Homo sapiens: one gene and its partner. The protein of the gene in region 2 interacts with the protein of the main gene of each other region in a biochemical or structural test. Each region holds a gene or a part of one and is shown on either strand. Other genes may lie near its edges.

Region 1 (15,633 bases), on a different chromosome or scaffold from region 2:
AAAGAAACACCAGATTCGAGCTCTGCCTTTAGAAACTTCCAGAGGGACTGGAACACATATGCTAGAAAACACACGCAAAACCCATGTACACAGGTCTACTTAACCTCTGACTGTGAAAAGAGGCCAGCCATGTGCTCACCACAGCACTGAGCTCAGCATGGACGGGCCCCCAGGGTGCGGCAGCCACAGAAGAGGCTCCTGGTGGGGGCCCCAGAACCAACTGGGCCGGCAGCCTGGGGCTCTGCAGCAGGAAAGGCAATGTGCCTGAACCCGTGTTGGATGCCACCCTGTCTCAGTCAGCATACGTGGGACCGCTGTGAAGGGGAGAGTATCTGACCTGTCTGCAGAGGCTAGAGATGCGAGGGAAGGCCAGGTGGCCCTCCGGGGCACAGCTCTGCCCCGGCCCCTTCTCACCAGGCCTTGGCCCCTGGTGACACCTGGCAGGAGGGCTGCCCCGAGGCCCTGCCGGGACATGTCTGTGCTGCACACACCTGGTCTTCCAGGACTTAACAAAGGGAAGGCCAGGCTGGGTGAACAGACGCCTTCCGCAGGCAGGTCACTGGCCAGGGGCACCTGTGCTAATGTGGGTTCATCCAGGCTGATAAGGGCGGGGCGCACGGTGAAGAGCCTGGGCAAGCTGCCCAGACAGACCTGCTCTATTGCTTCAGTGTGCTGGCCCAGGATGCGGCCCTCCCCACTTGTGTTCCTATTACTGGGAACACAGGCAGCATCCCCAGCCAAGGGGAGCTGAGATTCAAGGTGGTCCAGTGTTTGCAGGGTCCAGCTACAGGATACACTTGGTGCATATTAGTTCCCATACTTCCTGGCTCAGCCTCTTGTGAGTCAGGCTAACAGGAGTCAGTCTCCTGCACTTGAGGAATTCTGGAGGTACTTGCACAACAGTGCTGTGGGATGGGACTTCTGGTAAAAAAAAAAAAAAAGCATCAGGGTAGGTGCAGGCTTACAGGAGTCAATGAAACTAGGACTCACAATCAGTACACTGTGTGTGGGCATGGCTGTGCTTGGGAGTTTGTAATGGCAACACAGACACATAGGCAATGACGGACACTGCCCCGTGAAATACGTAAGTGTGTGTGCAGAAACAACCAGTTGCTCACGGATACAAGGAATGGGGACTGCCCCTACAGTGGAATCATCATGATAAGGTCACGTGCGCTAATATTTACTAAGCACACGGCTGGAACTTACGAGGCAGACACCTGCTTTACTGCCTTTACAGACAGAAAAGCTGGAGCGTAGAGAGATGGAGAAGCGGCAAAGCCCACACAGCTGAGGGTGGCAGAGCCAGCCAGGAGACCACGTGGCTAAAGGAACGCACTGCGTCGCTGTGCACGGACACGGGAAGATGGCTGAGAGTGTGAGGTACTAACAGAAAGCATCAGACACAACAGAGTCCCGTCTCTGTGAAACAAATTATGTTTGTGTCTATCTGTCCATCTGGCTATGCACAGAAATAGATCTGGAAGGTTTAAAGCAAATACTAACAACCTGCCACCACTGGGGAGTGGCATTACGGGCAAACGGCATTTCCTGTGGGTTTCTATCATGTTTTTCTTTACAATGAACATGTACTGTTTTATAAATTTGTTTAAAAAGTAATCAAGACAAACTAAGAAAGGACACCAACGAAGCGGGACTCCCTGCAAGTCTCCTGGGACCAGCCAGGGTGGGCCAGCTTAGTGGGAGGATTCTCCTTGGTGGCGGTGACTGGGGTCTCCCTTGTCTGAGCTGCATTCTTTCAAGAACACACTTATTGCAGTCAGCTGCCCAGGACTTGTGGAGTGGGTCATCTGGCTGCTCCTGTGACCTTCCATGGTTTTCTTTCTGAGAAGCAGCATTTTACTTGCTGGATACCTACTCTGGAAATTTGTCTCTGAATATGAATAGCATCCTTCTAAGACCTGAGAGTGAGAACCTCGCAGACTGCAGAACACTAAGCCACGTGATGAGAATCATCTGAAGAATGAAGCCGTGCTGTATTTACAGAACATTTTTCTTAGTGCGTCATTAACAAGAAATATTAGATCATAACAACATGAAGAGCGCTCCTGCCTCTGTGCTTGTCTCAGAGGCAAGCCCTGCCAGAAGCCAGCCCTCCTTCCCTCCTCTCCCCTGCAGGGGTGGCTGGGTGGCGGGGCGGCCCAGGACAGCAGTCTCCTCCCCGGCTCTGGCTAGCTCCAGGCAGACAAGTCCAGGGCCCGGCCCCTCCTGCCTCCTCAGCCGTGGTGGACGCCTTACTTGCCTCCTTCTTGTGAGGGAAAACCAAGGACCCCTGCTGGCAGATCGCCTCCCCGGGGTGAGGATGGTATGAGGGATGGCACAGACAGAGGACGTGTGGCTCCCACAGCGTGTCCCAGGGGTCCCGGGCTCTGCTCTCGTGTAATCACAGCCCCCCGCCAGCCATTCACAGCCCTGTCACTGGAGCCTCAGCGTCAACGCTGTGGACGTGGGCGAAGTGTGAGGGAGTAAGCGGAGAAGCGTGGGCTCATGATTCCTGAGCCGGACCAGAAGCTGTAGGTTCTCATGGCCCCACGGGCATGGGCTGTGGACTGTTCTTGGAGGAGACCATGGGTCTCTGGGACAGGAAAGTGGGCAAGTGAGCCCGTGACAGGTCCCCAGCATGACAGAACTGAAGGTGTGGGGTGTAGGGCGGGGAGAGGGCCTCTGTGACAGACCTGTGTGGTCCCCACCATCCAGCGTGGCCCTCGTGCCTGCCCAGCCCCTCCTCAGCCTCTGCAGAGCTGGGCCGGGAAGAGCCCCCCGCGCTGTGCCCACTGTGGCCCGCGTTGCACCCTCAGGCTGCACAAAGGCCACGTGTTACCTGTCGTGAACCTCGGCTTGGTGGGGGGCTCCTGCACAGACACGGGGAAGGTGGCAGACGCGGGTGAGGACTGCGCCCGGGACAGAGGCCTGTGGCCGCCGAAGGACACGGGGATGCCGGCGGCCTCCATGGACGCCTGGTAGTTCCTCAGCTGGTGGATCCGCTGCTGCTCCAGCAGGAGGGCTTGCTGCGGGGAAGAAACGGCCGTGTTGGCGGTTGCGGATGTCTCCCGCCCCTGGGCTGCAGGGCTAGGGGTTGCCCTCTCTTGCAAGTCTCCCGTCCACGCACAGGCCATACATGGGCCACAAGGATGCCGGGAGGCCAGCTGCGTGGAGAGGCCTTCCCTGTGAGTGCCCTGAAGCCTGAGTGGGCCCAGAGCCAAGAACGAGGCCAGCACAGGCTCTGCCTCCCAGGACGGTCTCTCTAGGGAAGGCAGGCTGTCCACGTGGGATCCTGCCATGGGTTACGTTAACAGGATAACACAGGTTGAGTCAGGGGGTCCCAGGGAGGCCTGGCCCAGTATGGGGTATCAAGGAGGGCTTCTCTGAGGAGGTGCTGAGCCAGGAGCAGCCTGGAGCAGGTGCAGGGGAGTAGGGCCTGGCAGGTGTGGAGAGAAGCTCTTGCTGGGGCGGCAGCCTGGCCCTCGCTGGTTTCACTGGGGGATATGCGAAGGCCATGTAGATGTGGGGACCACAGCGTCCACTCTGCCATACCACACACATACGGTGAGTGGGCACGAAGCCCAACCCCCTTGTTGGGTTTGTGGGTCTTAGTTCTGACCAACAGCATTGAATCTGCATGCCAAACTTGGGCGAGAAAGCACCATCGGCTCTCAGACTTGAAAGTGCCAACTGGGCTTCATCTGCAGCCGCTCCCCTCCCTGGTCTCACATCCCACACACCCTCGTGCAGGCTAAAAGCAGTAACAGCCCATCAGCTTCTGGGCACCCAGGACCTTTGGGGCCTAGAGCAGGCCTGCTGGTGGGGATGTGCCTCTCTGATGAGATGGAGCTGGGCTGGGCTCTGTGTGTGGGGGGGGCACTCAGCCAGGGGCCTGGGACACCCTGAGGGATTCTGGGAACAGGCTGAGGTGCAAACCCCCATACGAGGCAGAGTGGAGTGGAGGGAGCAGGGCAGAGATGAGGTCACAGCTGCCAAGCCTCTCCCCAGACAGCAGCTGAGGGAGAGCACAGCAACCTGCCACCCAGGCCGAGGCACAAAGAAAGCCGGGCGCCTCCTTGCTGGGAGCTCTGCGCCAATCCTGTCTTAGTTTTGATGAACAAATCCTGTGAACATGGAAAACCAGGTACCTACATCCCAGCTCCTGTATGAAGGCAGAGCCCAGCCCTGTGCTGCCAGCACTGGGGGAAACCAGAGCTACCCGGCCAGGCTCCGATCTGTCCTGCCTTTAGGAATCAGGCTGGGCGTGGTGGCTCATGCCTGTAATCCCAGCACTTGGGGAGGCTGAGGCGGGTGGATCACCTGAGGTAAGGAGTTCGAGACCAGCCTGGCCAAAATGGTGAAACCCCATCTCTCCAAAAAAACAAACAAACAAAACAAACAAACAAACAAAAAATTAGCCAGGCGTGATGGTGGGTGCCTGTAATCCCAGCTACTTGGGAGGCTGAGGCAGAATAATTGCTTGAGCCCAGGAGGCGGAGGCTGTAGTGAGCTGAGATGGCACCACTGCACTCTAGCCTGGGCAACAGAGTGAGACTCTGTCTCACACACACACACACAAAAGGAATCAGAGCCAGGAGGGAGCAGAGAAGAAGGAAGCCCTGAGACAGTGGGAGGAGCTGCAGCAGGAGCTGGAGCAGGAGCCAGCACCCACAGGCCCCCAGTCTGCTGCTGACCAAATTCAGCTGGGATTGCCGTGGGCCCCACGCGGTTAAGTGGTTAATAAGCAATCCTCCCCGACGCGGGCTGGAGGTGCCCCGCCTTATGTTTACCTCGGCAAATTGCTCCGTGTACTACGACGTTTCCCTGATAAGGGGTTCTGCCTATTACTCTCCAGAGAGAACAGAAAATAAGTGTTTCTAATAATCATCTCATGCTTGGAATATAACAAGCCTCTTTTTCTCAAAGTAAAGGCTGATCTATGAGAAACTAGCCCTAAAAATTATTAATGTAAATAGTTTCCCATTTCTTATCAGCCTAATAATAGCACACTGAATTTCAGATCTTCATCAACTTACAAGGCCCGACCACAGGAAGAGGCCCCCACCCTGGGCCTGTCGGACAGGACCTGTGGACGAGTGTTCACCATGAAGCACCGTGTGTGTGCCAGAGAGGCCCGGGGCTTTCTCTCTCTGTCTTTGCCAAGCGTTAGTTCTGCTGGGCTTTGTAGTGTTTAGTGCCCGGGGTGCTAATTAAGAAGGCCCAGAAATTAGAGACAGGCCCCCCTCTGAACAAGAAGGAGAAATAGCACCCAATGCCAGCCACTGGGGGAAGCTCGGTGGAGAAGGGCTCCTGACCCAGAAGCCTCTGGAGACCACTGAGCACTGATCCCGTGTGTGGCAGGCTTGGGTCTAGGTGCTCCAGGTACAAGGCCCCACACTGATTCATTCAGTGGCAAGCATTTAAGAACTGTAGCTGAGAATTAAGGGGAACAGTTTACTGCAGGGCGTCCTGCTCCTGGCTTCCAAGGTGCTGCTGGGGGTGGAGATGCAGCGTCTGGCCACACAGCTGGCAGTCAGGAAGCTGGGGAGGTGCTCAACGGCACGGCCGGCATGGAGTCCAGAGAGAAGGGAGGGAACGAGCCAGTGGCTCCTGCAGCCGAGGCAGCAGCTCTGCTGCTGGAGGATAGAATCAAATCCTACAGAGCTGTGGTTCCTCGGACTGGCTTCCTGCCTACAGGGAGGAAGCCACTTTCCTGAGGGCACTCTAGCTGCAGATACGGGGCTCCAGCTGGCTGCCCAAATGCCTTAGGTATTTCTGCTGACTCAGAAGTTTAATGTTTCAATGGAAATTAACCAGTCATTCACTGGCCTTCTTCATCAGTCTCCTGTGAGTTTGGTTACTGGGTGTCAGTGCCCTGAAGCCTTACTGGCTCTGGGTGCCACAATCGCACCCGTCTGTCTGGATCTGCAGGGCTGCTCATTAGCACCTCTGGGTCACAAAAGGTCTTGACTTCTGATCAGGCCCTGCCTGCCTTTTTGATCAATTAATACCTCTAGTTCCTTCACTTCTTTAAAAAGCATGCTGTATCTCACTAACACATGGATTCTGTGTTCATTTACAGCCTACAGACAGGAAGGAAATCCATTCTCTGGGGCCTGCGCATGGCTGGAAAGCAGTTACGTAACCACCCACAGGGGGCAAACATCTCGTATCCCTAGGAACGGCTGGGACAAAATGGAAGCCACATCAACCTCCCTCACTGGCCAGGACAAGACAGGTGAGACACTGGACAGTGACCGCGCAAGGATGCCCTGCAGCCCCCGTGATCACCACAGAAGATGCCACCTGGGGACCGAGGGTGGCTGTGCGTGCCAGCCTTCTGGTGCCCTCCCCGCCTGCGGTCACCTGTCTGAAGAGCAGCTCCTGCTCACTGGGCTGGCGCTGGCCCGGCTCCACCTCCCGTGGGGGCTCTGCCTCTTCCTCATCGCTCTCAATGGGCTCCTGCTTCACCTGCACGCCGGCCTGTGCGTGCGCCTCCTTCTGCCCCGGCAGCCGGTCCAGGTAGGGCTCGTCCAGCAGAGCCTGGTGCTCACGGAGCTCCTCCTCCGTCTCCTCCGGGTGGCTCTCCGGCTGCCGGGCTGGCTCGCTTGGCTTGGGGATGATCTGCAAGGCGGAGGTAACACATGAAGCACAGAGAGCTGGGTCCTCTGAGCTCATCTGACAGGAGAAGGGATGCTGCAAACCCCACCCTCTGGGGCAGACAATCAGGGACTCAGGGCACCTTATCACCCTGCCACAGGCCAGCAGGCACCTTTATCTCCCAACAGGCACTGGGGTGCCTGAGTGCCTAAGAAAATAATGCCCAGTAGGACCCCAGCCCAGGGTCAAGGTGACCTGGCCCAGGGAAGGAGGCTGACTAACATTTGGGGTTTACTAAGCACCTCTTCTGTGTCAGGCACCGAGAAACAGAAAAGAAGCTGCAGGTGTCAACAGAGTCTGCAGAGGAGAGCTTGAGTGTGAAGGGGAGAGGCCAATGCTGACCTCACAGCCACAACTGCTAAGAGAAACAGCCCACCACCCACTCAGCGGAAGACAACCACGTCCACAATGCTCACTGCCCAATCCCACCAACACGCCACGGCCTCCCCTCCTGCAGGATCCCACCGATGTGCCATGACCTCCCTCCTGCCGGATCCTGGGAACACTCCAGGACCTCCCTTCCTGCTGAATCCCAGGGATGCCACGGCCTCCCCTTCTGCAGGATCTCAGGGACACCATGACCTCCTTTCTTGCAGGATTCCATGGGTGCTCCATGACCTGCCCCGCTATGGGGCCCCAAGAACCGCAACATCCTCCCTCCTGTGGGACTCCCTAGATGCCCCCGACCTCTTTTCCTGTTGGATCTCACGGACGCTTCTCGGTCTCCCTCCCCGGCCTCTCAGTGCGGAACAGGCGGCAGGTGCTCCTCTCCTGCTCCCCGCCTGCTCCTCCGTCTTGGTTTGTCCTGGGCCTGCTCCTCGGCTCATTTCCCCATTCTGGATTCCAAGTATCAGCGACTCCCAAAGGTGGTGCTGAGCCCAAACTCGCTCTTTACCTCCAGACCTAATGGCCTGCCAGACGCCTCAGCTTAGCCTAGAGTGCCCATGAGCCCCAGCACAGCAGGTCCAATGCCGAACGCAGGGCAGCTTCTTCCAAGCCTCTCCCTTCTCTAGGACCTGTTCTTGGCTATTGGGACCTCTCTCTGGCCAGCTGTCCAGTCACACCCCAAGCTCCCAATTCTGTCCGCCAAGCACTGCCCATGCATTGCTCACGAGAAACGCCTCTGGACGGTGCTGCTTCTCTCCAGCCTCGACCTCCTGCCTTTCCTGCTTTGCCCCACCTGGCCTCTCCTGCCTGGATGACAGCATGGCTCCTGGGAGGCCCCCACCTCCAGCGTCAACGCTTTGCAATCTTCTTCATGTAGCAGTGAGGGCACGCTTTCAAACGGGCCAGTGGACCTGGTCACTCCCCTGCTGAATGTCCCCCAAGTGCTCTTCTGCCATCCTGCCTCTGCTGAAGAGCCCCTCCATCGTGTGGCCATGTTGCCCCTGCAGCCTCCCTGCCACCCTGCTCCCGACCACGCCGCTGGCTCTGCATCCCTCATGCCACACTCGCCTCCAGCCCGCTGCTTGCCTTCCTTCCTCGGCCTCCAGCCACTCCAAGAGGCTTTGTGAGCCTCCCGTGCATGTCACCTTTTCCAGGGTCAGCTGATCTTCCTGATAGGGCAATGTGCCCTCCTCCAGCACCCCCCGACCCCAGTCCTCTGGCTTTTCTGTGGTTGCCATTCATGTATCCATCTTTCCTGCAGTCTGCAGTTCCCAGGAGGGTAGGGACCACTTCTGACTCATCCACGTGGCACAGGCATTGCTCATCGCACATTCACTAAAAGGATGGGGCAAATGCAAGGGGTGTCCGCGTAGTGGGGCAAAGTGGAACAGGGTGTATGGCTGACCTCAATGCGCTCTGGGAGCTGTGGGAAGCCAGCAGGGCTGCAGCGTGGAAGGCCAGAGAACAGGAACACAGGGTGCCGGAGACGAGGTGGGGCTGTGGGAAGGGCACTCTGGGCTGAAAACAAGCAGGTGCACGTTCTAGAAGCATGCCCTGCTGCAGACAGGCCAGAGGTTGAAAGGGTGAGGCCAGCCCCACGTCTGGCTAAGGCATGGGAGAAAGAACAGGTTTCCATGACACCAAAAAGGAAGCAGCTCTAGGCCCAGGGACAGACTGCATATGGAGAGGCAAGAGAGGGTGGCCAGGACAACTCCTTCGTTTTGGGCAATGGAGCTGCCCCATCACATCTGGGAGCCAGAAAAGGGATGAATGTGAGCAGAGCAAAGGCTGGAGTTGAGAACAAGAGGGGAGAGAGGGATGCGGGAAGTGGCAAAAAAAAAAAAAAAAAAAAAAGCTCAGGAGAGAGGGCGGGGGTCTGGAGTTAGACTAGGAAGGGCGCACAGGGAGTTTCTCAGAAGAAGGCACTGACTGAGCTGCATTCCTCTGCAGACTGTGAAAGAACGTCCCACAATCCCAAAGTCCCAGATCGAGGGGTCTCTCCGGATGCTCGATTCATCTGTCCCCGTGGGGAACGGCCTGAAGGGCAGATTCGAGGGACGGTGGGACAAGCCGAGTTCCTGGCAGAGAGAGGAGCTACAGCGCGTGGAGGATGGATCTCGGCACCGCATCCGACTGTTTCCAGAAGGAAACTGAGGTGTGCAAGGAAGACTGACACCTGAAATCCCCCGAGCCCTTGCATTTCAACACCCTTAGAGCACTGCATGCTGCTCCACACTCACGCGAGGCGGCCTCTCCAGCAGCCTGAACTACGGGGCACGGGTTGGTGGGCACTCAGTGTCCGCTTGCTCCCAGGGGTCAGCCGTATCAGACGACACCGGTCCCCACGCAGCAGGGCTGAGACGCAGACTCACACACACACAACATGGTGAGTTTTCAGCCTCCAGAGCCCTGCTGTGCCTCACTGTGGAACATCAGAGACTTCAGATTGGGCGGGGGGTTTGTTTTATGATTGATCATCCCTTAACTTTCTTTCTAAGAGCAGTTTAAAGTACGGCAGTAAAAGCCGAGTGAAGAAAACGCAGATCCATTGTTTATCTCTAAACCGAAGGCAGCTTTTCTTCAGAAAAGCTTTCAACCTGGCACAGGGAAATGGAGCCAGGTCCAGCCGGGTGCAGGCAGCGTGGGTGTCGGGGCGGGCCGGCCATCGGCAGTGTGGGAACCAGTAGGCGGCGTGGCACGTAAGGAACTCAGCTTCAGAAAGCCAAACTCGCAGGGAGGAGAGTGCAGCGGTGGGTGGCCGCGCGTCGGGAACAGGAACGTGCTGTCCACGGGTGAGCGTGCCGTTGGGAGAGGAATAAGTTCCGGGACCTGATGCACAGTTTGGTGGCCCCGATATTCACGGACCTTACCACAGACACAATGAGAGCCCCGTGAGGCCAAGGGGGCATGGATGAGGTCCCTTGTGGCGATCATTTCACAACGCATACAAGTATCAAATCATCACGCCGTACGCTGTAAATACATGCGACTGTTTCCGGTTAGACTTTCACAAAGCCGGGGAGAAACAAGTTCAACTAAGGAATCTAGCAACATTGTCCCCATTTGCTCTGACAGGTTTCTCAGTGGTTGACCAAAAAAAGCATGTGTTTCAACACTAGTTTCACTTGATGATTTTGAGGTCTGTGATTGCTTCTGGTTTCTCAGTCCCATCTTCTTCCTGCACACTGAGAGCCTGAGAGGCCCTGTGGGGGGCAGGGAGAACAGGGAGCCTGGCGGTACCGCTGTCGCTGTGAGCAGGGGTGCCAGGTGCAGCAGGGGCGCCGGGTGAAGCAGCGCTGTTTCACAGGGGACCTCGAAGATGGCATCCAAGTCTTGGCTTTCAGGACACTCATCAAGAGGGCACCCATACGCTCAGTTCCTGCAGCTCCCCCAGGGCCCGGTGCAGTCTGATGTGTAACGGGATGTGACTGACTGAGTGGTGTATGGGAGGTTTCTTGAGAGCGGGGCCCTTATCACTCGGTGCACCGGAGGGAGAGCAAAGAACAAAGAATCTGAAAGCAGAACAATTCCCTAAGAAGGTGGCACAGAGCGCTGAGGACAATGCCCTGGATGAGGAGCAGGAGGGATTCGGGAGGAGGGAGAGCAGCAGCCAGGACGGGCCTTCAGGAAGCAAGAATGTCCTGGAGGCTGCAGGTGTGGAAGGAAAAGCAACAGGCTAAGGATGAGGAGACAGGGCTCAGACCACAGGCTGAGGACATGGGGACAGGAGCTCAGGGCTAAGGGTGCGGGGACCAGAGCTCAGGGCTGAGGGCGCGGGGACCAGAGCTCAGAGCTGAGGGTGTGGGGACCAGAGCTAAGGGCTGAGGGCGCGGGAACTGGAGCTAAGGGGAACGGAGCTCAGGGCTGAGAACGCAGAGATGGGAGCTCAGAGCTCAGGGCTGAGGGTGCGGGGACCAGACCTAAGGGCTGAGGACACGGAGATGGGAGCTCAGGGCTGAGGAGGTGTTCAGGGCCTCAGAGGGCTCCTCACAATGTGGGCTTTGCTCATCAGTGGATGGGCAGGAGAGGCTGCGGGTCTCTCCGAGGGGTGCATGGTCCTGCCTGTGCCACAGGAAGGTGCTAATGAGTCAGCGCGAGGGCAGGGGAATGCCTGCAGAGAAGCGACTGCACAGAGGCAGCAGGGCCGGGCAGAGGCTGGCACAGAGGCTGGGTCCAGCGGCAGTGGGGACCACCCGTGGACAGGAGAGTGAGCAGGAGGCACCAGGACTCCTGGCCAAGTGCCAGAGAAGGCAGTGGGGACCACCCGTGGACAGGAGAGTGAGCAGGAGGCACCAGGACTCCTGGCCAAGTGCCAGAGAAGGGCCACCACAGAGGAGGTGCTGGCCCCGGGACGGGGAGGTGGGTAGAGGGCAGCTCAGAGAGGCTGAATCCCAGCATCCGGTGGGGCCCTGAGAAATCCAGCAAGAAAGTGCAGATTCGAGTCTGGGATTTGGGAGACAGATCAGAACTGGAGCAGTACGCAGGTGGAATAAAGTCAAAGCTGGGAGCACAGAGGAGCTACGCAGAGCTGGGGAGCTGAAGAAACAGGGATGAGGCCTCAGGGACCAGTGGTAGGGTGTCGGGAAGCAGGGAGGCCACAGAGGCTCACATACAGATACATACACACACAGATACATATACCCGCAGAGGCACACACAGACGCACACAGACACACACACACAGACACAGACAGATGCACAAATAGACAGACATGCAGATACATATACACATGAAGAGACAGATACACAGATACACAAATACACATAGGCACAGGCACACAGAGACAAGGAGAGGAGACCAGAGGGCCAGCAGAAGGGTGGGTACAATGCCAGGAAAGGGCAAGGGGAGAAGGAGGAAGGTGGGGGAGGGAAATGGGGGGGCGGGGAAGGGAAATAGGGGGAGGGGTGGGGGAGGAAGGCTAGGACCTTAGAGGGGACCCTGTGGGGCTGCCCCATCCCAGCAATGACCGAAGTGGTGTGCCTGCCTTTCTTTAGCAGCCCAGGGGCCATTCTGAAGTGGATAAAAGTGATGGAGGGCAGCAACCCCATAGAGGACACAGAGGCAGGTCCCTTCTCTAGGGTGGGGTGGAGGACAAGGCAGCTGAGGGTGGAGGGGAGGGGTTCCTGCAGCAAATGGCCACTCCCAGGAAGCCAGGCTGATCGAGGAAAAGGGTTTGTCTGTTTGCCTTTTAAAGGAGACGGCCCAGGGAGGACTCGGTGGACACAGAAGCTCCAAGACTTTTCTTCTGATGCTTTCCTTTAAATTTCTTTTTTTTTTTTTTTGAGACAGGGTCTTGCTCTGTTGCCCAGGCTGGAGTGCAGTCATGCATTAGGCAGTCCTCCCACCTCAGCCTCCTGAGTAGCTGGGGAGTACAAGCATGCACCACCTTGCCTGGCTAATTTTTGTAGAGACGGGATTTCACCAGGTTGCCCAGGCTGGTCTCGAACTCTTGAGCCAAAACGATCCACCCACCTTGGCCTCCCAGAGTGCTGGGATTACAGGTGTGAGCCACCATGCCCAGCTTTAAATTTCAAACTTAAAGAAAAACTTCAAGAACTCTGTAAGAAAATCTCAAACGTCCTTCCCCTATGCACAGATGAATGGCGGTGGAGGTAGTGGGGGTCATAGCGGGGGTCAGCCTCTCTTCCTGGGGGGCTGTTTCAGGGGCCCCAAGGCCACTGCAACCTGCCTGCCTGAGGCTTTCGGCAGCCGCGTCTACCGTGCTGTGCATCAGGAGACCTCCCCACTGTTCCAAGGGCTCTTGGATGGCCCTTCCCCGGCTGGCTGCGGATGGCGTGTGCTGCCAGGGGCCGCATCTCTTTAGTGTCCTTTAGTGACAACATTCCCAGGTCTTTTTCCTCCCTTTCACGAGGATGAAGCCTCTGAAGTGTCCCCCGCTGCCGCACGCCCCTCGGCCTGGAGGAGGGATCATCTCCACACCGTGGGCCTCCGGCGAGGGCTCTCAGGCAGGGCCTGAGGAGGATGTCACTTTGGCAGTGGTGCCACGTCAGAGCCCTCTGTGACGCAGGCCAGGCCCCTTGCCTTGGCACTGACGCAGGCGCCTGTGGGTCACCTCCCTGGGCCATGGCTGCAAACAAAGCCTGCTTCTCTCTCTCTCTCTCCTTTGACATTCAGTTCTGAGTCTCACTGGCTGGGCTGTGGGCTGGGGCTGCACTGCAGAGCTGGCTTTGGGAGGTGAGCCGGACGCGGGCAAACAATTGAAGCAGCTCTGTGCAGCCCGAAGGCCTTGGGGACACTGAGAGCCCCTTTCATCAATTCAGGAAGAACAAATGCACCTCCATATTTGGAATAATTACATTTTTAAAAAGTCAGGCTGGAGTTCACGGCCAAAACCGAACTGGTAAACTGCCAGTATTTTAAAACAATCGGACACACTCGTAATTAGACCACCCAAAATATGAGTCCAAGTTTTCATATTCAAAACCGAGGATGTCAAGTTAAAGGGAAACACACCCGAGGCCCTCCGCTCTGCAGGAGGCAGGTTCTTGTGCAGAGTCCAGAAACCATGGGAAGAACCACCTTGAGAAGCAAGGCTTCTTGCTGTAGGGGTGGAGGACACCTTCCAACGAACGTCCTCTTTTAATAGAAAGAGGTATTTCGCCTGGACACACATCACCCACTGCTCGCAAACCAGACATAACTGAGGCCAAGTCCGGACGTGGCCAGCGAACACGGAGGGCCAGTTTCACCTGCAGAGTTCCAAGGTCCACTCGCCCTCTGATGGTGTGCGTTCTCCAGAAAGTTCCTTCATGCAGCAAACCCTTATAAACACCACTGCATACAAGGCACGGGCAACAGAAGCTGACACAGTTGGAAAACATCTGCCACCATCCCGACCACAGGCTGGGGAGAGGAGAGCAGAGCCAGCTCGGGGTCGATCCTGTCCACCTGGTGGAGTTTTCTCAGCCAAAAGGGGCAGCTCTGCAGGCTGCAGGCCTCGGGAAAACTAGAGTGGCTACATATGGCTGCAGGGAACACCAGGGCTAGGCACGGGCCGCCTCTCTTTCTTTTTTATTCACAGTGATGTTTCCAAAACAACTGCCCTCTAAGGTACAGGCTGAAGGAGGGGCAGACCAAGCCGGCCCCAGCTGCAACCCCAATGTAGGCTGGAGCAGCGCAGTGGGACAGGAGGGTTCACAGCTGCCAGAGCTGGGCAGATGCCCTCAGGGAACAAGCCCCTGGGGACGTCATCCTCCAAGAGGAAGGGCCGGGACGTCAGTGTTAGGCGGCCCTGGGCAAGATTCTTGTCTTCCTGGGCATCCTGGGAAAACACTGTCTAAACGTTTCAATCAACTGTCATTCACTCCCGTAAATCAATCAGAGAACAAACTCCAGTGAGAGTACCCGGTTTCTAAATCCTTCAAGAGTATACGGCATGTGAATAGGTGTTTCCTGTCTTCCTCAAACCTCCTACCCCATCACTCAGATAATGACATAATAAAATTAACAAACCTAAGTTGGCATTAGGAAGACGGATGTGAAAGTGCTTTTGACACCTGGGAGTAAAGATGCCTGGCAGGCGCCCGACACGCCCACAGCCTGTGCCCTTCCCGTCCCAATGAGGGGATTTGCTGGGTGCCCCATCCATTTCTGATGCGTTCCCTGCTGTCCGCTGATGAGGGCTTGGGGGTGGAGGGGCATGTGGGGTGGGGGTGGTGAGCCTATTTTGTGGTGTCCAGTGGGCAGCAGGGGCCAGGCTGTGGCCTGTGCTGGGCATCTGGTCTGACGTGGCTGCCACCCTGGAGCAAGGCCCCAAGGGGCCCATCTCCTCAATCCTGAGCCTGCAGCCCCATGATGGCTCACACACTAGGATGGATTTGGGCCACAGCCGGCTGCCATCTCCCAGGGGCCTTCCCCGACTCAGCCCCACTGGACCGGACACCACGCAATCAAAGCCTTTGACCACTGCGCCAGGGCTGAGCTGACTCCTCTTCTGGGCTGGAACTGTGGGGCTTGAGAGAAGGAAATTGGGACCAGGCAGGCAGGAGGGGCTAATGGTATCAGGAGGTCAGGGCTGCGGGAAGAGGCAGCAGTGTTGGTGGTGTAGGGGTCTCTCCCCACGGCTTTACCTCTGCTCTTGCTGGGATCCTGGTATTTCACTTTCCAACTCCTGTCTACGTGTGCTAGGAAAGTCTATCTCCTCCCCAGTCCTAACCCCAATTTTTCACCCTCAGGAAAACCACAGAAGACCCTGAGCCTCCGGACAGGTGGACAACCCAGGACCGGTCCTGAAATCCAGGGAAGCAACGGGGGTGGGGTGGAGTGAGGGGGGCACTTTCACAGGAGAGACAATAAACGGAGAAATGATTCCGTCTGTCGCCAAATCTGCCAAAGGTTTCTCCACGTTCCCCTCCCATCAACTCATCCTCTTTCTTCCTTGTAACAGCTTTACTGGGATATAATTCACATACCATCCAATTCACGCTTTTAAATGATATCATTTGTTGTTTTTAGTATATTTACAGAGCTGTGCAGTCATCACCATATCTAATTTTGGAATATTTTCACCATCCCTAAGAAGAGGCGCTGTTCCCCAGAAATGCTCCCCATCTGCCCGCAGCA
Region 2 (15,633 bases):
GATTAAACTAAACCTTTTACATTAATTTTCATCACTAGAAATTGAGGAGCAGGATCAATATGATTGCCTAGAAAGACAAGTGTTTCGCTCTCCATACACATCTTCATCTTTAGAAGAAAAAATTCCTAGGTTTTAAGACCACATTTCTAATCTTCTAATATTCACTTACTGATTTTGTCATTTAGAATATAACCTTTCATAATGAATGCAGGTTTTCAGTGAAAACTTACTATGCCTTAAATTTTCTAAGTGAAAATAGAAATGTAGGTTAAGCATTCCTAATACTAAAATCCAAAATGCTCTAAAATCAGAAACTTTTTGAGCACCAACATGATGCCACAAGTGGAAATTTCACACCTGACCTCTCATGATGGGTTGCAGTCAAAAAGCAGGTGTATTACAGTTTATTCAGTGTTTATTCCCTGTCCCCAAGGGAAAAAAGATCCTCCCAGCTGAGATAAATCTTTTCTGTATACGCCCAGACTCCCCCAAGTAAGCACGCCCACTAAGGATGATAAAATGGCACATGTACAGGCCAGACATGCCAATGGCAAGTTCCCCCGATTCCCCATGAGGAGCCAAGACCTATGTGTATTACTCACTGTGGATTTTTGCATATTCTCTTCTTTGTGGTGTAAAGATATTTTTGAAAAGGTCAGAAAGGCCTGCATGGTACCCAGAGTAATGCAAACATTCCAAAATCTGAAATCTGAAGTGTTTCTGGTCTGAACAAAGCATTTCGGATAAGAGATAATCAACCTGTATTTAGATAATCAACCTGTATTTGTTTTCTGAAACTTTTATAAATAGCATTTAACATAAAAATGTTTTAAGAAATACTGAAAGACATGTAAACAAAAGGACATTGATAATCAAAAGATACCTTACCTTGAAACATCACCGTTGGTCTGCATTTCTTGAAATTCACACAAAGAGGTATCATCATTGCTTAAGCTTTCAATCATAGACATTTCATTACTATTTTGAGAAAGATCTTTAGTTTTTCCAAGATTCGCTAATGATGTAACCACATTGGCCAATGTACTTAAATCTCCCTGACATGATTCAGCCTTTAAAAAAAAGGGTATTAAAATTCTGTGAATTGGTATCACTATTTTTTTCAATCTGAAATATCCAATTATAGATTATGATATGCCAACAAAAGAACAGTATGATAAATGAAACCTGGAAAGTTAAAGGGCTGAGCTTTCAGAAATTTACTGAGGAAAATACAAGTTTAAAAACATCAAGTGTATTTCTTAAGAAATGTTTATATGTTACTTTGTTTTTTTTTTTTTTGGGAGATGGAGTCTCACTCTGTCACTAGGCTGGAGTGCCGTGGCATGATCTCAGCTCACCGCAACCTCTGCCTGCCAGGTTCAAGCGATTCCCCTGCCTCAGCCTCCCAAGTAGCTGGGATTACAGGCACATGCTACCATGCCCAACTAATTTTTTGTATTTTAGCTGAGACAGGGTTTCACCATGTTGGCTAAGATGGTCTTGATCTCCTGACCTCATGATCTGCCTGCCTCGGCCTCCCAAAGTGTTGGGATTACAGGCGTGGGCCATCGCGCCCGGCCGTATATGTTACTTTTTTTTAAGAGACAAGGTCTCCCTTTGTCACCCAGACTGGAGTACAGTGGCACGACCACAGATCACTGCATCCTTAAATTTCTGGGCTCACTGATCCTCCTACCTCAGCCTCCTGAGCAGCTGATCCTACAGGTGTGCACTGCTATGCCTGGGTTGTTTTTTCATTTTTAGAAATGGGGTCTTGCTGTGTTGCCCAGGCTGGTCTTGAACTCCTGGTATCAAGTGATCCTCCCTGCCTCAGCCTCCTGAGTACAATTTCTAAAACTTACTATACAAACTATAAACTTGTATGGAATATGAAGAATACTAGTGAAGAGCGGGGGAAAAAATGGCAAATGAATTGTTGAACAGACTTCCTAGGATGCCAACTTTTGCCAAACATTGTGTTAATTAAATGTGTTAAAAGGCACTGTGTTAAACACAAACATTAAAAGAAATAGATCAGTTACCCATTATTCTCTTCACTTTTTTGTCACTGGAGTTGAAAACTCTCTTTATATAGGTAAGATACTGATCTATTTGTCTTTTTTTTTTTGAGACAGAGTCTCACTCTGTCACCCAGGCTGGAGTGCAGTGGTGTGATCTCAGCTCACTGCAACCTCCAACTCCTGGGTTCAAGTGATCTTCCCACCTCAGCCTCCTGACTACGGGCGCATACCACCATGTCCAGCTAATTTTTTAATTTTTTGTAGAGATGGGGTTTCATCATGTTGCCCAGGCTGGTCTCAAACTCCTGGGCTCAAGTGATCTACCTGCCACAGTTTCCCAAAGTGCTGGGATTACAGACATGAGCCACCGTGCCCGGCTTGTCTTCATTTTTTTAATGTTTGTTGAAAATGTGTATATTACTTGTGCATTAGCTACAATTCTTTTATAAAAAAGAATTTTCTCTCAACTCTTTTGACAACTCAGAAATATAATTTGTACGGGAAAGGCAGGTAAGTGCTTTATTTTTCTTTTACTTTGTTATCAATTTTCAGAGCAAGAAGCTGATATCCTAGCAATTTCTAATTATGATACATGAGTTTTTCTGAGTATAATTTTTAATTCATAGATTTTCATATATTTGATTTAAATTTATTAAATTCTTTTGTAAATCCTTTCCCATCCTAACCTAATGAGAAGCCTTTTAAGTTGCCTTCTATGGCCTACTGGGCCAACCCCTTAATGGTATCTTCTTATTAATACTTTCTTCATGGTTTTTTCTTTTTGGTGTTTTTTTTTTTTTTTTTTTTTGAGACAGAGTCTTACTCTGTCGCCAGGCTGGAGTGCAGTGGTGCGATCTCGGCTCGCTGCAAGCTCCACCTCCTGGGTTCACGCCATTCTCCTGCCTCAGCCTCCTGAGGAGCTGGGACTACAGGCGCCCGCCACCATGCCCAGCTAATTTTTTGTATTTTTGGTAGAGACAGGGTTTCACTGTGTTAGCCAGGACAGTCTCGATCTCCTGACCTCGTGATCTGCCCGCCTTGGCCTCCCAAAGTGCTGGGATTACAGGCGTGAGCCACTGTGCCTGGCCCTTTTTGGTGTTCTTAATACTAAAATAACACATATGTTCCCATGATGTTTCATTTATTATAACAATCAGTTTCTGTGAGATTTTGGTGAATCAGTAGAATAAAATAATTTTTGTGCCTTCTCCAAATTAATCAATGGTCCAAAAATCATTTACTGAAAACCCTACCAGTTATCATGTTCTTACATAATTAATACCTATATATGCATTTTATTTAACTCCCATAACAACTCTGAAATAGAAATCATCATTCCTCTATTGCTAACCAGAAAAATGACCCAAATAGTAGAGGTGGGACTGGCTGACTGCCAAAGTCTATGCTTTTTTTTTTTTTTAAGAGACAGTGTTTTTTAGAGACACTCCTATCGCCTAGACTGGAGTGCAGTGCCAGGATCATAGCTCACTGCAGCTTTGAACTCCTAGGCTCAAGTAATCCTCTGCCTCAGCCTCCCAAACAGCTGGGACTACAGGCATGTACCACCATGCCTGGGTAATTTTTTTATTTTTAGAGACAGAGTCTCGCTATGTTTCCCAGGTTGGTCTCAAATTCCTAGCCTCAAGGAACTCTTCAACTTCAGCCTCCTGAGCTGCTGGGATACAGGCTTGAGCCACTGTGCCCAGAAAAGCCCATAATGTTAAGCACTGCCCCAAGAAATTTTCTTATATTTGAATAAAAAGTACATTAGTTACAATTTTAAATGCTTTAATATTCACCTAAAACTTAGAAGCTTATATAGTCTCTTCTACCTAGCAACATATCTAACTAGATTCTTTTTTATTTTATTTTATTTTTTTATTGATCATTCTTAGGTGTTTCTCGCAGAGGGGGATTTGGCAGGGTCATAGGACAATAGTGGAGGGACGGTCAGCAGATAAACAAGTGAACAAAGGTCTCTAGTTTTCCTAGGCAGAGGACCCTGCAGCGTTCCACAGTGTTTGTGTCCCTGGGTACTTGAGATTAGGGAGTGGTGATGATTCTTAACGAGCATGCTGCCTTCAAGCATCTGTTTAACAAAGCACATCTTGCACCGCCCTTAATCCATTTAACCCTGAGTGGACACAGCACATGTTTCAGAGAGCACAGGGTTGGGGGTAAGGTCACCGATCAACAGGATCCCAAGGCAGAAGAATTTTTCTTTCTAACTAGATTCTTAAGTTTTTGCCCCTAAAGGCTCTTAGCCAACATAGAAAACTTTCATCTTGTGACTTCAGAGTTTTGGGGCAATTTATCAGAGAAGCTTACCATACGGTTGTCATAACAATTTAATACAAAGATATACAAGAGAGCACAGTGTCTGGGCAGAGTAGTTTGTCAAGGAAACCTAGTTCCCTTCCTTTCTTAAAGGAGTTAATATGTCAGTAAAACCAATTATCATTCTAACCTTGAATCATGCAGACAGGGCTAAGTGAAGTTTTCCAAAATATATGGCAAGAGGCCACTGCCTCACCTAGCAATTACATGCTAAAGCCCAAACTGTAAGATACTTTTATTACTCTTATTTTACAGATGAGAAAGTAAGGCACTAAGAGGTCAAATAACTTGCCTAATGTTATATAGCTAGTAAGTGGTAGATGAAATTTGATTTCCGAGCCTAAGTATTTAGAGCGCCTTAAAGCATCAAGTGACAAATATATAACAAATCTTGCATAAACAGGACAAATAATCTTATAGGTTATATAAAATCAGATCCCGGCCGGGCGCAGTGGCTCACGCCTGTAATCCCAGCACTCTGGGAGGCTGAGGCAGGCGGATCATGAGGTCAGGCGATTGAGACCATCCTGGCTAACATGGTGAAACCCTGTCTCTACTAAAAATACAAAAAATTAGCCGGGCGTGGTGGCGGGCGCCTGTAATCCCAGCTACTTGGGAGGCTGAGGCAGGAGAATGGCGTGAACCCAGGAGGCGGAGGCTGCAGTGAGCCGAGATCGGGACACTGCACTCCAGACGGGGTAACAGAGCAAGACTCCGTCTCAAAAAAAAAAAAAAAAAAAAAAATCAGATCCCAGCTAGGTAGGGAGGCTCATGCACATAACCCCAGCAATCTGGAAGGCTGAGGTGGGAGGGTCACTTGAGCCCAGGAGTTCGAGACCAGCTGGGTAACACAATGAAACTCGGTCTCTACAAAAATAGGAAAAATTAGCCAGGCACAGTGTCACGTGCCTGCAGCCCTAGCTTCTTGGGAGGCTGAGGTGAGAGGATCCCTGGAGCCTGAGAGGACGAGGCTGCAGCAAGCCATTACTGTGCCACCACCGTACCCCCAGCTTGGGTGACAAGAGGGGACCCTGTTTAAAAAACAAACATGGTTGAGAGAAACCCTGATCATAGGCTTCCTAAAATCTGTTTTCAGATATGAGTTTTCAGGAGAAATTTTTGCTTCTTGTTCTCCCAAAGGGCTTCTGACAAGTACAGAAACTCTTCATGTTCAATTTAAATAAACAAACTGTTTTTCCTTTAGACCCTTGGTCTAACATAGAGCTGCTCCAATCTCTAAGAGAACTGGATGACTTGGATACATAAAAGGAGAGCTCTTGCAGTCCTATTCCTACTCTTGACTCAAGTAAATATTTTGATGGAGGTGAGCTAAGAATTTCCTTTTACCTGAAATATTTTAAGTATTTTGGCACTAAAAAATAAAAAAAGTATTTTGGCACTAACAAATCTGTAAGGGAGCATAAAAGAAATATTAAGAATTGTACGGCTGGGCGTGCTGGCTCACGCCTGTAATCCCAGCACTTTGGGAGGCCAAGGCGGGTGGATCACGAGGTCAGGCGATCGAGACCATCCTGGCTAACAAGGTGAAACCCCGTCTCTACTAAAAATACAAAAAAATTAGCTGGGTGTGGTGGCAGGTGCCTGTAGTCCCAGCTATTCAGGAGGCTGAGGCAGGAGAATGGCGGGAACCCGGGAAGCGGAGCTTGCAGTGAGCCGAGACTGTGCCACTGCACTCTAGCCTCGGCAACAGAGTGAGACTCCATCTCAAAAAAAAAAAAAAAAAGACTTTTACACCTATAATAAATGTCTTACTGAGGACTCGTATTTCAAGATGAGGGAAGAGTACGTGTTTGTTGCTTTCATGTTGAAGGGATAATCATCCTAGTGAAATTATGAACATTTCTGATTTTTTTTTTTTTTTTTTTTTTTGAGACAGAGTTTCGCTCTTGTTGCCCAGGCGGGAGTGCAATGGCACTATCTCGGCTCACTGCAACCTCCACCTACCGGGTTCAAGCGATTCTCCTGCCTCAGCCTCCCGAGTAGCTGGGATTACAGGCATGCGCCACCACGCCCAGTTAATTTTTCCATTTTTACTGGAGACGGGGTTTCTCCATGTTGGTCAGGCTGGTCTTGAACTTCTGACCTCAAGCGATCCATGTGCCTCGGCCTCCCAAAGTGCTGGGATTACAGATGTGAGCCACTGTGCCCAGCCGAACATTTCTAATTTATATTAAAAAAAAAAAGGCAACTTGTAATATGGAATATTTAAGAACAAAGCAATTTACCAAAGCAAAGGAAGTGATTAGAAAACATTTTAAAATGCTTAAAATTATCTAAGCTTTAAATTGTACTAAACACACCTTATCTGATGTCATCAGCACAGCTGACTCAGTTTTTACTCCAGATGGATGAATATTCATGAACATTCCTGAATCTAACAGTCCTGTTGACCTGTAACAAATCAGCACAAATTTTGGCCTGAGTTTCATTGGGAAGAAAAACAAAATGACCAGCTACTCAGTGTCTGTTTTACTTTACCTTGTACTTTCACTATCTGTTACAAAAGTTGGAGTTGCAGTTAATGGGCTACGAAGGTCCTTTCGGATATAGATTTTTTCTGTTGAAGCGGCACAGTTGGAAGATTTTTCTCGTGATACTTCAATGGGTTTTCTTTCACATTGGACAGCTACAAAAATGTGTTAAACTATTATATCACAATATAGGATTTACAGACAATTAGAAATGTAAGCTGTAGGTAAGCTTAATGCTGCTAATAGGAGACATGGCTACCATACTAAACTCCAAAGATAACCATCAATCTTTAGAAATTATGTGCAAGTTCAACAAAGTTGCTTTAGATTAGTAAAACAAACCAATTTGCATCTCTCATTCTTTTTGCCAAACACAAACTACAAATACGTGCTTTTTACACAGGTATTCAATAAATATTAGTTGAATAAATAAAAAAGTACATACGTAGGTCTGTATTCTTATATTTTTAGTTGGAAAACTGTAAACTAAAAAGTATACATATTTGACATATTTTGTTAATTTCAATACTCTTGTAGTTTGCTGGAATCTTTAAAAAGTATTTTCTCCTTAAAAGCTAATACATACAGTCTTGCTTCATTCCAAACGCAATACATCTCTGTAACCTGCAGTATTGACAGCGGTTTCGGTGGTGCTTATTAATAATACAATCCTTTGATCCTCGACATGAATATACTAAATTTTTTCGGATGCTTCTTTTAAAAAATCCTTTGCAGCCTTCACAAGTTACTGCTCCATAATGACGTCCTAGAGAGAAAATGTTTAAGAAAATATAAAAGTCACATTATTTCAGAACAGAAATGACATAAGCCAATTTCTTCCCTTTAAACAACATATAAGATGAAACTGATTTTTGAGCTTCTGACATGAAAAACATTTTTAGAAGTTATTTTTATTTATCATAACTTTTTTAGAGACGGGATCTCGCTCTGTGGCCCAGGCTGAAGTGTAATGGTGCGATCACAGTTCACTGCAGTCTCGAACTACTGGACTCAAGGGATATCCCCAACTAGCTGGGACTACAGGCTTGCGCCACCACACCCGACCAGTTTTATTATTATTTTTTTTTGTAGAGGCAGTCTTGCCATTTTGCCCAGGCTGGTCTTGAACTCCTGGCCTCAAGCGATCCTCCTGCCTCCACTCCCAAAGTGCTGGGATTACAGGCATGAGCCATCTCACCTGGCCTAATGTAATATATTATTAAAGATCAGAAGTCATTATTTTTAAATGATTCCTTTGCCAAAATTTCTAGTTTTCACATTAAAAAATGTTTCTACAGCTGGGCGTGGTAACTCACGCCTGTAATCCTAGCACTTTGGGAGGCCAAGGCAGGTGGATCACTTGAGGTCAGGAGTTCAAGACCAGCATGGCCAACATGGCAAAAGCCCGTCTCTACTGAAAATACAAAAATTAGCAGGGCATGGTGGCACACGCCTGTAGTCCCAGCTACTCAGAAGGCCGAGGCAGGAGAATTGCTTGAACCCAGGAGGCAGAGGTTGCAGTGAGCCGAGATTGCACCACTGCACTACAGTCAGGGTGACAGCGCAAGACTCCATCTCAAAAAAAAAAAAAATTTTTTTTTTACATGTTCACTTTCAAAAGTGAAATATGCATTTTATTTCATTACAAATCATATTAAATTGCACTGAAGTTAAAAAATATAAGTGAATAAAGAACTTTGGGACCGGGCATGGGGGCTTACACCTGTAATCCCAGCACTTTGGGAGGCCAAGGAGGGGAGGGTGGATCACCTGAGGTCACGAGTTTGAGACCAGCCTGGCCAACATGGTGAAACTCCATTTCCAATAAAAATACAAAAATTAGCCATGCGTGCTGGCATGCACCTTAGCCCCAGCTCCTTGGGAGGCCGAGGCAGGAGAATTTCTTGAATCCAGGAGGTAGAGGCTGCAGTGAGCTGAGATCACGCCACTGCATTCCAGCCGGAGCAACAGTGAGACTCTATATCACAAACAAAGAACTCTGGGAAAAAATTAGTTAAATGTTATAGGCTACAAATATGAACCATAAAAACGACATACTCCTTTATTTCTCTTCTTACTTTTAGTAGAAGAAACATGGTAGTGTGGTAGTTATTTCAACAACACGACACATATAGGAGGTTATTTTTTTTTTCTGTTTTTAGGAGGTTATTCTTAATGTTACCTGATGCTTTGTCTCCACATACTACGCAAAGATCAAAAACCTTATTTGGTCCTTGGTCTGGAGAATTATCTGTTAGGAGCTAAAAAAAAAAAAAAAAAAAAAGAAAACAAAAACGAAAACCTGTTGTTACTCAACAGCACTCATTCTATTAAAAAAATTAAAGAACATTCAGTTGGTCTTGCTTTGTTGCTTTCTTTTTCACAAGTTATTTTTAAACTTTGTACTCTATGAAGAGCTCAGAACCTTTCCACATGTAATGACGACAAAAATAAGCTTATAATGGCATAAAGAGATAACTCTAAACCTTTTAAATAGAAAAGGGGCTATAAATAAATTTCCTTGAGGTAATTATAATCATGCAGATGTGCTCGCTATACAAAGGTATGGACTTAAAAAGCTCATCACTAGGCACAGCTAATAAGATACTGGCAAAGGAAACTAGTTTCTTCTTTAAAAAACAAAAAAAGGCTGGGTGCGGTGGCTCACGCCTGTAATCCCAGCACTTTGGGAGGCTGAGGCGGGCAGATCACCTGAGGTCAGAAGTTCAAGACCAGCCTGGCCTACGTGGTGAAACCCTGTCTGTACTAAAAATACAAAAAATTAGCTGGGTGTGGTGGAGAGTGCCTGTAATCCCAGCTACTTGGGAGGCTGAGGCAGGAGAATCGCTTGAACCCAGGCGGCAGAGGTTGCAGTGAGCCGAGACTGCACCACTGCACTTTGGCCTGGGAGACAGAACGAGACTCCATCTCAAAAACAAAACAAAACAAAACAAAAAACAGCAAACTAGTTTCTTCCTTTAGGTTTATCTTTCAACCTTTTCATCATTTTCTTTCAATCTTGAAATGTGAACAAATAAATTCAATTAAAGAAAATGGAATGGCATTTGAATTCCTCCAGGAATACTTCTGATTTTATGAACTTTAAATGGTTCTTAAAATGACTGCCCCTTACTATGTAATATATAGCATCATTTCTTCTTATATCACCACAAAAATCAGTCTTCAGTAAGTACTTAAGCTTCTGGTACTAGATGTCCTATGAAAGCATCTATGGCAAGTATTACTCTTTAATAGCCTACCTGTTGCAAATGGTGCTAATCTTTTATCTATTATTCCTAAGTCTGGAAGGAGATATTGAGAGATTAAGGGATTTACCCACATTCATGAGAAAAACATCAGACCAAGTCCAATAGTGGCACATCCTACAATATACCTGGCCAGTACTCCTCACGTAATTGTCAAGGTCATCAAAAACAAGGAAAGTCTGAGAAACTGTCCTAGCCAAGAGAAGCCTCAGGAGACATGTCAACTCAATGCAATAAGGTATCCTGGATGGGATCCTGGGACAAACAAAGCCATTAGGCAAAAACTAAGGAAAGTCTAAACACCTATAAACTTCAGTTAACAATGTATCAGTATTGCTCATTAATTATATCATGAATGTAAAATGTTAATAATAGGGGAACTGTGTGTATTTACGGGGGAGTAATATGGGAACTCTGTTCTATATGCTCAGTTTTTCTGCAAATCTAAAACTATTCTAAAATATCAAGTCTACTACTTAAAGAAAAATTAAGGTACATATAATGTTATACATTTTTTTGTGACTTTTGTCTTGTTGATAAAACAACTTCTTATAAATCTGTGACTGTATCCACTTTCTACCTTTATTTCCAAAACTAATACAAATATCATTGGATGAATAGATGATATCAGGATATACAGACAAAATTTCGTGTTTTATGAATTCAGAGTTTTTCAATCCAAAGAGGAATTTTCTTTCGTGAGTTTTTCATCATAAAAGATAGAACCCAATTTTAAGTAGACCCCCTTCAAAAAGTTTCTGAAGGCAAACTTCAGAGTACATTATATTTGTATTCAATCATAGCAACCAGCAGTGAAAACATCGACATAACCACAGGCATGTGGTGTATAAAAGTTTTTGAGTCTTTGAAGAATAATGTGTAATTTTCTATTCTAGCGAAAACTAAAATGATGTAATGTTAACATATACTACTTCATTCCAGAGTAAAGCAGGAGCCCATGACTGCACTGCTTGCTATTTCATGAAGATGTGCATGACAACAAAGGAGGCACAATGTTGAAGCCAGCAGCTATAGTCCAAACTTCTTGATTTGGCAGCTTCCTGTTTGTAGCACAGGCAGCTTGGTTCTGGAAAATACAGCTACAAAAGCTGCTCCTGATTTGACAATTTCCTAATTATGAAGTAGGAGGTCTCTTAGAAGCCAGTTTTGCAGCATGCTCCAATAGTCGATCTTGAAAACCTGGCCTAGAACTGTTTCTTCAACCTTCCTAACAATTCTGCAAGCTCTCTGTATCCTTTATTAAAGGCTGTTGTCCTGGCTACAATAGCCAGAGTGGATCTTACTGTATGCAACAAAGAATCCCCAAAATATATGAGTGTGAGGAAAGTACAGTGGCCCATAGGAGAGGGCTGTCACTGTAGATACTGTGTTACACATAATTTTATGCATTTTTTTCCTACTGAATATACATAGATCTAAAGTCTTCATGGCAGGGCTTATGATTAAAATTTTTTTTTTATATATGTAAGAGGAAAAGACACTTCTATAGTTATTTACCTGCAGGTGTTGTGCAGACAGATCAGGAGTGGTAAAAAATAACTGGTTGACACCTGCTGCATCTGGAGTTGTAAGGAAAACTTTTCCCGGAGTGGAATCTTGCCTGGCCAGAATGACTTTGCTTGGAGTAGAGCCGTCGTGATTTGTCAGAATGAACTGCTTGCCTTGGGTATTATGATCAAGTGCTGTCACAATCTGGATTTTCTGCCCAGTTTGCTGCTCTGTAACAATCTAACAAAATCATGAAAAATAATCAATGAAACTCAATAATTTTTCTTTAATGACACAATTATCTTCTTAGAAAAGCACATTACATATATATTCAATATAACACACACGTACCTTTTAAACTACCGATTCTATTGCCACAAAATTCTATCCTACAGAAATAAACAAATGTGCAAACAAAGGTACAATAGTAAGAACATTTTGACCTCACTATTTTGATTCCCTCCTTCCCCTTCCCTCCCATGTTCCATTTAGACAAACATATATTGGGTGATTTATATTAGCTGTTCTGCATACTGGGATGTAGCAGTGAATAAAACAAAACTTTTGCCTTCATGAAGCTTTTATTTTAGTGGGGAAAGACAGATAATAAATAAGCAAATAATAATATTGTCATGCGGTACTAAATGCTATGAAGAAAAACAAGGCAAGGTGAGACAGTAACAGAATGAGGGCAATGAGGGAAGCTCACGCTAAGGAGGTGTCATTTTTGCAAAGGCCTGAGTGAAGAAACAGACCAAGGCTTAGGACTACCTAGGGGAAGAACATTCCAGGTAGAGGAAACAGAGCATATAAGTAGGTCCCAGGGCAGGAGGGAGGTGTTTGACACATGTGAGGCACAAGGCACAGCAATAGAGATATATGATGAGTAAGACAGAAGGGAAGACAGGGATTACAGTAGAATATGGGATCTGAGTGACAGCTGGGACTCAGAGGGCTTTGTAGGCCAAACAAAAGTCTAGATTTCCTAATGTGTGAAATGGAGAGCCACCAAAGGGTTTGGAGCAGAGGAGTGACAGGATTTTATTTTTTAAAAAGGAATCAGACAGGCACAGTGACATTATCTATAATCCCAGCTACTTGGGAGGCTGAGGCAGGAGAATCACTTGAGGCCAGGAGTTCGAGACCAGACTGGGCAACACAGTGAGACCCTGTCTCAAAAAAAAAAAAGAAGTATAAAAAAAGCATTCTAAATTTAGTGTGAAGAACAGACTGCAAATGTTCAAGAGTAGGCCGGGTGCAGTGGCTCACGCCCATAATCCCAGCACTTTGGGAGGCTGAGGCAGGTGGATCCCTTGAGGTCAGGAGTTCAAGCCCAGCCTGGCCAAAATGACGAAACCCTGTCTCTACTAAAATATAAAAATTAGCTGGGCATGGTGGCGGGTGCCTGTAATCCCAGCAACTGGGGAGGCTGAGACAGGAGAATCGCTTGAACCCTGGAGGCGGAGGTTGCAGTGAGCTGGGATTACACCACTACACTCCAGCCTGGGCGACAGAGGACTCTGCCTCAAAAAAAAAAAAAAAAAAAAGGGGATGGACACAGTGGCTCATGCCTATAACCCCAGCACTTTGGGAGGCCGAGGCGGGCAACTCATGAGGTCAGGAGATTGAGACCAACCTAGCTAACACAGTGAAATCCCGTCTCTACTAAAAATACAAAAAATTAGCTGGGCATGGTGGCATGTGCCTGTAATCCGAGCTATGTGGGAGGCTGAGGCAGGAGAATCACTTGAACCAGGGAGGCGGAGGTTGCAGTGAGCTGAGATCGCGCCAATGCACTCCAGCCTGGGTGACACAGTGAGAGTCTGTCTCAAAAAAAAAAAAAAAAAAAAGTTCAGAAGTAAAATTAAGGGAGATCAGAAAGGACACTACTGCAGGTACCATCAATATCTGGTTATGACATATGGGCAGAAATACTGACCAGGAACAGGGTAGCAGCCATGCTGGGGGTGAAAAACAATTAAATTGGGATTTACTTACTTATTTATATATTATTTATTTATTTTAAGAAGAGAGAAGTAACAAAATAATGCTGATAGACTGAAGGGGAATATGAAGAAAGAAGAGTCAAGGATGATTATAAAATTTTGGCTTGAGCAATTGGGAGGACAGAACTGCCATCTGCCATCTGGGGGGGAGGAACAAGTTCATGAATACACAGAACTATTTCAGCATTGAGAGTTTCTGTTATTCAGCAAATATATCCCAGATTAAACATCATTAAGCCAATTAAATTCCTTGATTCAATTTTAAAATGGCAAAGTCCGTTTGTTTCTAATTTTCCAAAATTCCAATCCTGTTCCTTCTGTACCAAATTTTTTCTATTTTTATTTTCCTGAAATTATTTCAAGATTCTTTTCTATGCAAAATTTAAAACAAAGTTCTGATTCACTAATCAGTTTATGTCTAAAGCAAATTGTTTGGATAAAAGACTAATAGTTCATACTGACTTCTTAGAGAAGAGCATTTGGCGCATTCATGGTCCAACTGCTCCTGGGTTGAAACATTCTGCTTAAATGAGTAAAAGGACATTACTGCAGCATAATAATTGTAATAATTGAATATTTGGGCAATCCAAAGAGCCTTCAATAGAGAAGAGTAGTAAATTATGTAAACAGTTCTTAGCTTTTAGGACTCTTTATATTCTAAAATATTACTGAGGGTTCCAAAGAGCTTTTTTTTTGAGATGGAGTTTTACTCTTGTTGCCCAGGCTGGAGTGCAGTGGTGCGATCTCGGCTCACTGCAACCTCTGCCTCCCAGGTTCAAGCGATTCTCCTGCCTCAGCCTCCTGAGTAGCTGGGATTACAGGCGCCCGCCACCCCACCTGTCTAATTTTTTGTATTTTAGTAGAGATGGGGTTTTCTGCATGTGAGTTAGAAATTCAAAGAGAAATTTTAAAAATAGTTGATTCATTTAAAAATTAACAACCCATTAAATGTTAACATAATTTTTTTAAATTTATTTTTAATTTTCGTGGGTACATAGGTGTGTATTATCTTTGGGGTACGTGAGATGTTTTGATACAGGCAGGCAATACATAATAATCACATGGAAAACAGGGCATCCATCCCCTCAAGCATTTATCCTGTATGCTATAAACAATCCAATTATACTCTTTTAGTTATTTTAAAATGCATAATTAAATTATTATTGACTGGGCGCAGGGGCTCACACCTGTAATCCCAGCACTTTGGGAGGCTGAGGTGGGCGGATCATGAGGTCAGGAGTTTGAGACCAGCCTGAGCAACAAGCTGAAACCCCATCTCTATTAAAAATACAAAATTTAGCTGGGCGTGGTGGCAGGCACCTGTAATCCCAGCTACTCAGGAGGCTGAGGCAGGAGAATCCATTGAACCAGGGAGGCGGAGGTTGCAGTGAGCCAAGACAGCGCCACTACACTCCAGCCTGGACAACAGAGCGAGACTTTGTCTCAAAAAAAAAAAAAAAAATTATTGACTATAGTCCCTCTGTTGTGCTATCAAATACTAGGTCTAATTCATTCATCCTATTTTTTTGTACCCATTATAACCTATTTCTTAATGACTAAAAAGTTTATTTTCCAAACAAACAAAAATGTAGTGCAGAGAGTGGCTTTGTTTTACATTTCTACAAATTGCTTTAATATCTAGTTTAACAGAAGTTGGAATCTCATATCTGTTTCTTTATTTAATCTGTTAGACTATGTTGTTTTGGTTATAACAAGGCTGGGCACAGCACCTCACGCCTGTAATCCCAGCGCTTTGGAAGGCCAAGGCCAGTGAACTGCTTGAGCCCAGGAGCTCCAGACCAGCCTGGGCAACATGACAAAACCCTGTTGCTACAAAATATATAAAACATCAGCCAGGCACGTGAGCACAAAAAATGGCCACAAAAAATCAGCCGGAAACCTATTTCTTCACCATATATATACATATACATACATACATATATGTATATATGTTAAAGAAAATTCAGCTTCGTATTTATTGGTTGAAAAGGGGAAGGATATT

Evidence for each region.
Region 1: the proteins of NR2C1 (region 2) and HDAC4 form a complex in vitro, tested with the Homo sapiens proteins (2 studies listed by BioGRID).

What each region holds. Positions count from the first base shown.
Region 1 is NC_000002.12:239,108,684-239,124,316, forward strand, and holds part of HDAC4 (histone deacetylase 4), read right to left. Parts: intron 6,628-15,633; coding exon 6,370-6,627; intron 3,030-6,369; coding exon 2,843-3,029; intron 1-2,842. UniProt on the Homo sapiens protein: Responsible for the deacetylation of lysine residues on the N-terminal part of the core histones (H2A, H2B, H3 and H4).
Region 2 is NC_000012.12:95,050,874-95,066,506, forward strand, and holds part of NR2C1 (nuclear receptor subfamily 2 group C member 1), read right to left. Parts: intron 12,015-15,633; exon of another isoform or gene 11,977-12,014; intron 11,866-11,976; coding exon 11,635-11,865; intron 9,112-11,634; coding exon 9,033-9,111; intron 7,617-9,032; coding exon 7,437-7,616; intron 7,006-7,436; coding exon 6,858-7,005; intron 6,771-6,857; coding exon 6,680-6,770; intron 1,071-6,679; coding exon 889-1,070; intron 1-888. UniProt on the Homo sapiens protein: Orphan nuclear receptor. Binds the IR7 element in the promoter of its own gene in an autoregulatory negative feedback mechanism. Primarily repressor of a broad range of genes.